Linked DNA regions of Homo sapiens. The protein of the gene in region 2 interacts with the protein of the main gene of each other region in a pairwise test. Each region holds a gene or a part of one and is shown on either strand. Other genes may lie near its edges.

What was found. The genes of interacting proteins can lie anywhere in the genome.
Region 1: the proteins of KRTAP10-6 (region 2) and DHX57 interact in binary tests that used the Homo sapiens proteins (3 or more experiments, as listed by UniProt).

The regions. Positions count from the first base shown.
Region 1 is NC_000002.12:38,797,229-38,800,081, forward strand, and holds the end of DHX57 (putative ATP-dependent RNA helicase DHX57), read right to left. Parts: intron 1,227-2,853; coding exon of another isoform or gene 1,215-1,226; coding exon 1,071-1,214; 3' UTR 501-1,070; downstream 1-500. UniProt on the Homo sapiens protein: Probable ATP-binding RNA helicase.
Region 2 is NC_000021.9:44,589,684-44,594,334, forward strand, and holds KRTAP10-6 (keratin-associated protein 10-6), read right to left. Parts: upstream 2,823-4,651; 5' UTR 2,802-2,822; coding exon 1,704-2,801; 3' UTR 1,585-1,703; downstream 1-1,584. UniProt on the Homo sapiens protein: In the hair cortex, hair keratin intermediate filaments are embedded in an interfilamentous matrix, consisting of hair keratin-associated proteins (KRTAP), which are essential for the formation of a rigid and resistant hair shaft through their extensive disulfide bond cross-linking with abundant cysteine residues of hair keratins.

The DNA.
Region 1 (2,853 bases), on a different chromosome or scaffold from region 2:
TGCCCAAGCTGGTCTTGAACTTCTGACCTCATGTGATTGGCCTGCCTCGGCCTCCTAAAGTGCTAGGATTACAGGCATGAGCCACCGCGTCCGGCCCTGAGGTCTAAACAAACATACAAATATTTTTTCTACTCAGCAATTTGGGATCCTTCCTCGCCATACTGATAGATGTCCAGGGAAAATGTAAATCCCCTGATGTTTTTCCAAAATGCTAGCGCCCCATTAACCTAACAGGTGGTTGAAAATAAGCAATTTCATGGAAAGCATTGTGGTGGCTGTAAATCCGATGGTAACCTTTTTGACCTCATCCATGCCAACTCTGCCCCAGGAATGCTATTAAAATTCTCCTTCGGTGATTCGTGTCTGGGTGAGTTGATAAGACAGAGTAAAGATTCCTAAATGTAGAACTATGACGACATCTAGATTGTTCTGCTTTTAAGAATAGGAGTGTTATCGATAAGACCAGCTTGCACTTTAATACCAAAAGAGAACTCATTCAATTTTTTTAAGTTGACTTTTAATGAGTAAAAATAAAAACCCCTCACAAGTCAAGTTTACTCAGTAGCCAATAGCCTAAAATGAAATTTTAATTTTGCTTGTTCACATAATTTTGGGTTTTTTTTCCCCTTCTCTGTTCTGACTTCTCTCAGTCGAGCCTTGGCGACAGGAAAAGAAAAAAAAAAAAGGCGTATTTCTCTTCATGCCCCTCTCACCCCAGTAAAAAGTAGGAGAAAAAGAATACACAGATTAAAACAGAATTGTATTATACATTCACTTTTGAGTTATCAGGTGAACTTAATTCACTCCAGAACAATCACAGAGACAAAGACAGGCAAGCTGGGTTTTAGGCTCTCACCCTTGACACTCCAAATTGTGCTGGGAGTGGCCAAGGCTTTGTTAGAAATGGCCCTAAGGGTATATACACTGCCTCAGCTGCCTTGGGCTTCATGCCCTGGGCTCCTCCACCAGGGCCAGCCCCAATAGGTCTTTAGTTCGAGGTAGAGGTTCTGCTGTTATTTCCCAGGTGAGCTAGAAGCAGGTGAGTAGCAAGCACTCTCTAAGACTGCTTTTTATTGTGTGGTGACAAGTTTCACAATTGTGCTGATGATCCGGGATCCTCGAGGACACGTACACAGATCAATGCTTGGGTTTTTAATTTTATCCTGGAGAAGCTGATCAAGTTCGCAACGAAGCTCCTTTACCAGTTCAGCCACCTAAAATGAAAGCTACAATATAAGCAGTGCTTGGAGGAACAGGCAGGATAGGTTATTGGAGGGAAATACCCAAGTTATGATTACCATTATTTAGATTTCTGGTACTAATTTTAACTCCATTAGGAGCAAAAACCCTAAATACATTTTCATTTTGTAATAGACTAAATGAGGTCCATTGTAAAAAAGTGCCTCTATCACATCTCATCTAAAGAAAAGATTCGGGCCAGGCGCAGTGGCTCACGCCTGTAATCCCAGCACTTTGGGAGGCCAAGGCGGGCGGATCATGAGATCAGGAGTTCAAGACCAGGCTGGCCAACATGGTGAAATCCTGTCTCTACTAGAAATACAAAAATTAGCGAGTTGTGGTGGCATGCGCCTGTAATCCCAGCTACTCAGAGGCTGAGGCAGGAGAATGGCTTGAACCCAGGAGGTGGAGGTTGCAGTGAGCTGAGATCGCGCCATTGCACTCCAGCCTGGGTGACATAGCGAGACTCTGTCCCCCCTGCTCCCCAAAAAAGAAAAGATTCAGTCTGGAAGTATGGCTTTTATATAGTGTTCTCCATATTAAAGTTTGGTCAATTTTTATGATTTATTCCACGAGGAGAAGCAGGAAAATGGGGAATTAAAAGTGGTAGAGAGGGCCGGGCCCGGTGGCTCACGCCTGTAATCCCAGCACTTTGGGAGGCCGAGATGGGCAGATCACCTGAGGTCAGGGGTTCGAGACCAGCCTGACCAATGTGGAGAAACCCCGTCTCTTAGTACTAAAAGTACAAAATTAGCTGGGATGGTGGTGCATGCCTATAATTCCAGCTACTTGGGAGGCTAAGGCAGGAGAATCGCTTGAACCTGGGAGGTGGAGGTTGCGGTGAGCCAAGATTGCGCCATTGCACTCTAGCCTGGGCAACAAGAGCGAAACTCCGTTTCAAAAAAAAGAAAAAAAAAGGAAAAGAAAATTTACTGATCACCGATCACTCCACTGCAGACCTTGTTGTCTCAAAAAAAAAAAAAAAAAAAAGGGTGGTAGATAGGCTGGGCCGGGTGGCTCACGCTTGTAATTCCAGCACTTTGGGAGACTGAGGTGGGCGGATCACCTGAGGTGGAAGTTCGAGACCAGCTTGACCAACATGGAGAAACCCCATCTCTACTAAAAATACAAAATTAGCCAGGCATGGTGGCACATGCCTGTAATCCCAGCTACTCGGGAGGCTGAGGCAGGAGAATTGCTTGAACCCAGGAGGCAGAGGTTGTGGTGAGCCGAGATCGCGCCATTGCACTCCAGCCTGGGCAACAAGAGCAAAACTCCATCTCAAAAAAAAAAAAAAAAAAAAGTGGGCCAGGCTCAGTGGCTCACGCCTGTAATCCCAGCACTTTGGGAGGCCGAGGTGGGCGGATCACAAGGTCAGGAGTTTGAGATCAGCCTGTCCAAATGGTGAAACTCCGTCTCTAATAAAAATACAAAAATTAGCCTGGCGCGGTGGCTCATGCCTGTAATCCCAGCACTTTGGGAGGCCAAGGCGGGCAGATCACCTGAGGTCGGGAGTTCAAGACCAGGCTGACCAACATGGAGAAACCCCGTCTCTACTAAAAATACAAAATTAGCCGGGTGGTGGCGTATGCCTGTAATCCCAGCTACTTGGGA
Region 2 (4,651 bases):
GGCCAGACAGGCTGGGTCCTGTCGGTGCCTCGGACGAGGGCAGGTGGGGACAATGACAAACATGGAGGAGGTCAGAGAGCCAGCCCCGGCCCCTCCACCTGGCTCTCTGTTCTGACCTTGTAGCCATCAGTGGGCATAGTGAGGTGGGTGGGGCTCAGACACGCATGTGTGGGGAGCCCCTCCCCAGGATGGTCCTGGAGCCCTAGGATGAAGGCTCGGCCCCTGCCAGCTACCCGGAGAACCAGGGCAGGAAGAAAACATCTCTGCCCCTGGAGGCTCTCATTTGTCCCTTCATGGGGACGTGGCTTTGCTTCCAAGGAGGTGGACAAGGCTGTGTCAGTTTGGCCTCCGGCCCTGGGGACGGCTGCTGCTGGCTGTCCTGGGTCTGCCTGGAGGGGAGTGAGCGAGGCGGCTGTGCTGACCACAGGGAGCTCCATGGGGTGGGACTCCGGGAGGTCCTCCTGCTGGTGCTGGTCGCCTCTGGCGTTGACATGCAAGGGTCATTTGCTGGGGCAGGAGGCAGACCTGGGCTCTCAAATGCACACAGCGACCTGGCAGAAAGAGTGCAGCGGCTCGTACCACTCGCCCAACGCGGTATCGTGGACCACGTCTGAGTGCCAGAGCGGAGGGTGGCAGACAGAGCTGAGGGCTATTTGGAGAGACCTAGGAGGCTGGGGGTGTGGGGACAGGGTCCTCGGGGTCAGAGTCCAGGACCACAGGACCAGGAGGGAGCCAGGACCCTGAAAGTCTAGGCGAGGCCGCATGGGGCAGGGGGGCCCGCAGGCTTGGTTAGTGGGTGCCATGGTCCCTGCCCATCTGTGTTCTCGCCAGCGATGCCTGAGCAATGGGTATTCCAGAACCCCACGAATACTGGGCTGCTGGGCTCGAGTCCTGGGGGAGGGCGTGGTCCCCATGTCTTACTGTGGAGGAGATGAGGGCTGCAGGGATGGGCACTGTGGTCCATAGCTGGTCTCCCCAGGGGTAACAGGAGGGGTGAGGCTGCTGGCTGGAGCTAGGCCCCGGGTGGGCTACCCCAGTCCTGGGGGGCAGCCATGAGCTGGGGAGGGTGAATGTGGCTCAGGGGCCCAGAGTGCTGCCAGGGTCCACTTTGTCCCGAAACTCCTGGCCTTGGTTCCAGAGGCAGCTTTCCTAAGATGGGCCGGGGGGCCATGTGCTGGGGTTGGGGGCCCACGGGGCTAAGAGGGAGACTGGCCTTCAGGGTTCACAGAGGCCAGCACCAGAAGGCATTGCTTCCTGCCTCATCCCATGCCCCTCGGGGGTCCACAGACAGGATGAAAAGTCGACAGAGACAGAGGGGTGGAGCCAGGCCTGCTGGGGGTCAGGACTCTCCCTGCAGTCAGGGGTGGCATCACTTCCCACCTCACCCTGTGCCCCCCGGGGGTCCACAGACAGGACAGAGGTTGGTGTGAGACAGAGGCGGCTTTATTAGAACTAGAGGGGGTGCTGCCCAGGGTGGAACCAGGCCTGCTGGGGGTTAGTTCTGCAGAACTTGGGTCTGGGGGAGTAGCTGGGGTCTCTCATGCAGCCAGCATCTGGGAAGGACAGGGGGAGCATCCTGGTCCCTAAGACAAAGAGCCTGCCCCATCTTCTGAGGGTGTCAAAGCCAGAGAGGGCAGAGCTTGCTGGGGCAGCTGGGAGGTCAGCCCCTGGTGGGAAGGGACTCCGGATCACATCCAGGGCTGTCAGCAGCTGGACTTCTGGCCAGAGCAGAGGCTGTAGCAGGCAGGGCGGGAGCACATGGGGCGGCAGAGGAGGGAAACACAGGAGGCCGTGCGGCAGCAGCTGGGCTGGCAGGAGGAGGCAGAGGCACCACAGGAGGGGACGGGCACGCAGCAGGTGGACTTGCACACAGGGTGGCAGAGGAGGGACACGGAGGAGGAGGATCTGCAGCAGGAGGCGGTGCAGCAAGCCGGCTGGCAGCTAGACTGCTGGCAGCATGATGTGGAAGCCCCAGAGCAGACGGGCACACAGCAGGCGTGCTGGCAGGGGGAGGAGGTGCAGCAAGCTGGCTGGCAGCTAGACTGCTGGCAGCATGAAGAGGAATCCTCAGAGCAGGTGGGCACACAGCACACAGGCACGCAGCAGACGGGCACGCAGCAGGCCTGCTGGCAGGGGGAGGAGGTGCAGCAAGTTGGCTGGCAGCTAGACTGCTGGCAGCATGAGGGTGTGCAGGAGCTGGTGCAGCCTGATTGGCAGGGGCTGGGCTCACAGACCGCCTGGCAGCAGGGGCTGGACACACAGCTCACACAGCTAGACTGCTGGCAGCACGAAGAGGAAATCCCAGAGCAGACAGGCTTGCAGCAGACGGGCACACAGCAGGCCTGCTGGCAGGGGGAGGAGGTGCAGCAAGCTGACTGGCAGCTAGACTGCTGGCAGCATGAAGAATCCCCACAGCAGACGGACACACAGCACACAGGCTTGCAGCAGACAGTCTTGCAGCAGACGGGCACGCAGCAGGCCTGCTGGCAGGGGGAGGAGGCACAGCAAGCCAGCTGGCAGCTAGACTGCTGGCAGCACGAGGGCGTGCAGGAGCTGGTGCAGCCTGATTGGCAGGGGCTGGGCTCACAGGTCACTGGGCAGCAGGGGCTGGACACACGGCTCACTGGGGTGCAGACCAGGCTCAGGCAGGGGGCCGGGGCGCAGCAGGGGGGCTCACAGCAGCTCTCTGGGCAGTCGTCCACCTGCCAGGAGTCGGAGCAAGAGTCACAGGAACCAGGAAGGCAGACGCGGCTGCCGTAGCTCAGGTCGCTGGAGCAGACGGACATGGTGGACGCGGCCATGCTGGGGTTGAACTGGTGGAGGGTGAGGGAGTGAGCCTGTGAGGTGCTGAGGCTCTCGGGCTTTTATTCCACCTGGCCTTGTTGTCCCCGGGCCCACAGCTTCCCCTTCCGTGTTGCCGAGAGCTGGAGTCTGCCGGGATTAGGGGTGTTTGTTCGCCCGTGATGTGGGCCAGCTCATAAATCTCCCATCACATCTGGGCTGTGTCCCATCCCATGTGGATCCCTGGCGGCAGGAATTGGGCGGGGCCTGGTCCCAGCTGGGTTCGGGGAGCTGGGAGAGCCACAGGTCGCGGCATCGTCCACCCCTGGCCCCAGCAGCCCCGGGACACAGAGTCCCTCTGCAGGAAGCCGGCCTCAGGAAGTGTCCTTGTGGTGAAAACCCCTCATCCAGCGTGGTCCTTCCCCCATCACCGGACACAGGACTGTGGCCATCTTCTGAGGGACAACCTGGGGCCCATGAGCCTTCATTGACCTGCCCTGGGCCATGGCATGGTGGGGGTGGGGGGCAGCTGTAACTGTGCCCAGACCTCTTGGCTTTGAGCTCTGGACGACTTCTCATCCCCACAGCCTCTTCACCTCCGGCCCTGTTTCGTGTCCACCTCGTCTTTGTGTTTTGGAGGCAGCAGGACCTGTGTGTTCCAGGGCAAGGACGGTGGGCTTGGCCCCTCCCTGCTTGGACAGCATGACAGCCTTCTGGGCTGTGGTTTTGGGTTCTGAACCTGCAGAGTAACCGTGCTGAGCAGCGGGCGGTCAGCAGCCCTCGTCCCCGCCTGGGGTGGCTCCTCTGTGTGCTCTGCTTCTCCGAGGCTGCCCGTCAGCCCCCACCCAGCCTCCTGCTGGGCCCATTTCCCAGCCCTGTCTTCCAAGCCCTGTGCCAGGCCTCTTAGTGTCACCACCTTAAAATTAAGGGACATCTGTCCAAAGAACCCGCACAGAAGACACAAAATGGGTCCATGAGAAGTTGATCTCACTGCAAACCCATTGCCAGTGTAAACGAAACATAAAATCCTAAGCCCCTCAACTGACTAAATGGATCCCATCTTGCCCACGGGGACCCCCGAAAAACTGCGTTCCTGGCCATGACAGGAAGGGAGGTCAGACACGCCTCGTTACACCCCCTCCCTTTAGGGTTTCGACACAACCACTACCCAGCACTAAAGTTAAAATAGAGACCGTAAGACCCACAGAGCAGACTCTGGCAATAAGATATCAAATTACAAACAGGACCTCAGGCCGCGCCAGGCAAGGGACAAGCCGCGTGCCCTACACTGAGAGGACGGACTCTGCTCTCACGCCACAGCTGCTGTTTTTCTACAGTGGCTAAACACGCACTGGCCCCGCGATGAGGATGAGCAAGGTTCAAACGACTGCAGCTCATCCACCAGCAGATGCCAACTGACCACGTTCCACAGCCATGACCACAGCTCTGACTGGGCAGGAGACTGACTTCAGGAACCTCCTCCTGATAAGGGACCCCCAACCATGGACTGGCTCCAGCCGGTTTACAGAGGCTGTGCACTGGAGTGCCTTTGTGTCCTGAGAAGACTTCTGAGGTTTAGGGCCTCATTGCGACCCATTGACATGATAAGACTCCACCCTGTAAGAAGTACATTTCAAGTGGTCCGTATTCAGAAAACAGGCCCTGGCAAGTCCAGGCAGCTCCCTTGCAGATGTGACAAGCCACACAGTACAGACATCTGGGAAGAGTGATAAGACTCACAGAAGTCAGAGGGGAGGAAGAAAAAGTGACGGATGGCTAACACATAAAAGGAAAGAAACTTTTGCCATTGAGAAATCAAATGTAAAGTGGGGAAGGGGACAAGATGTAACCTTATAAGGGGATAATGAAA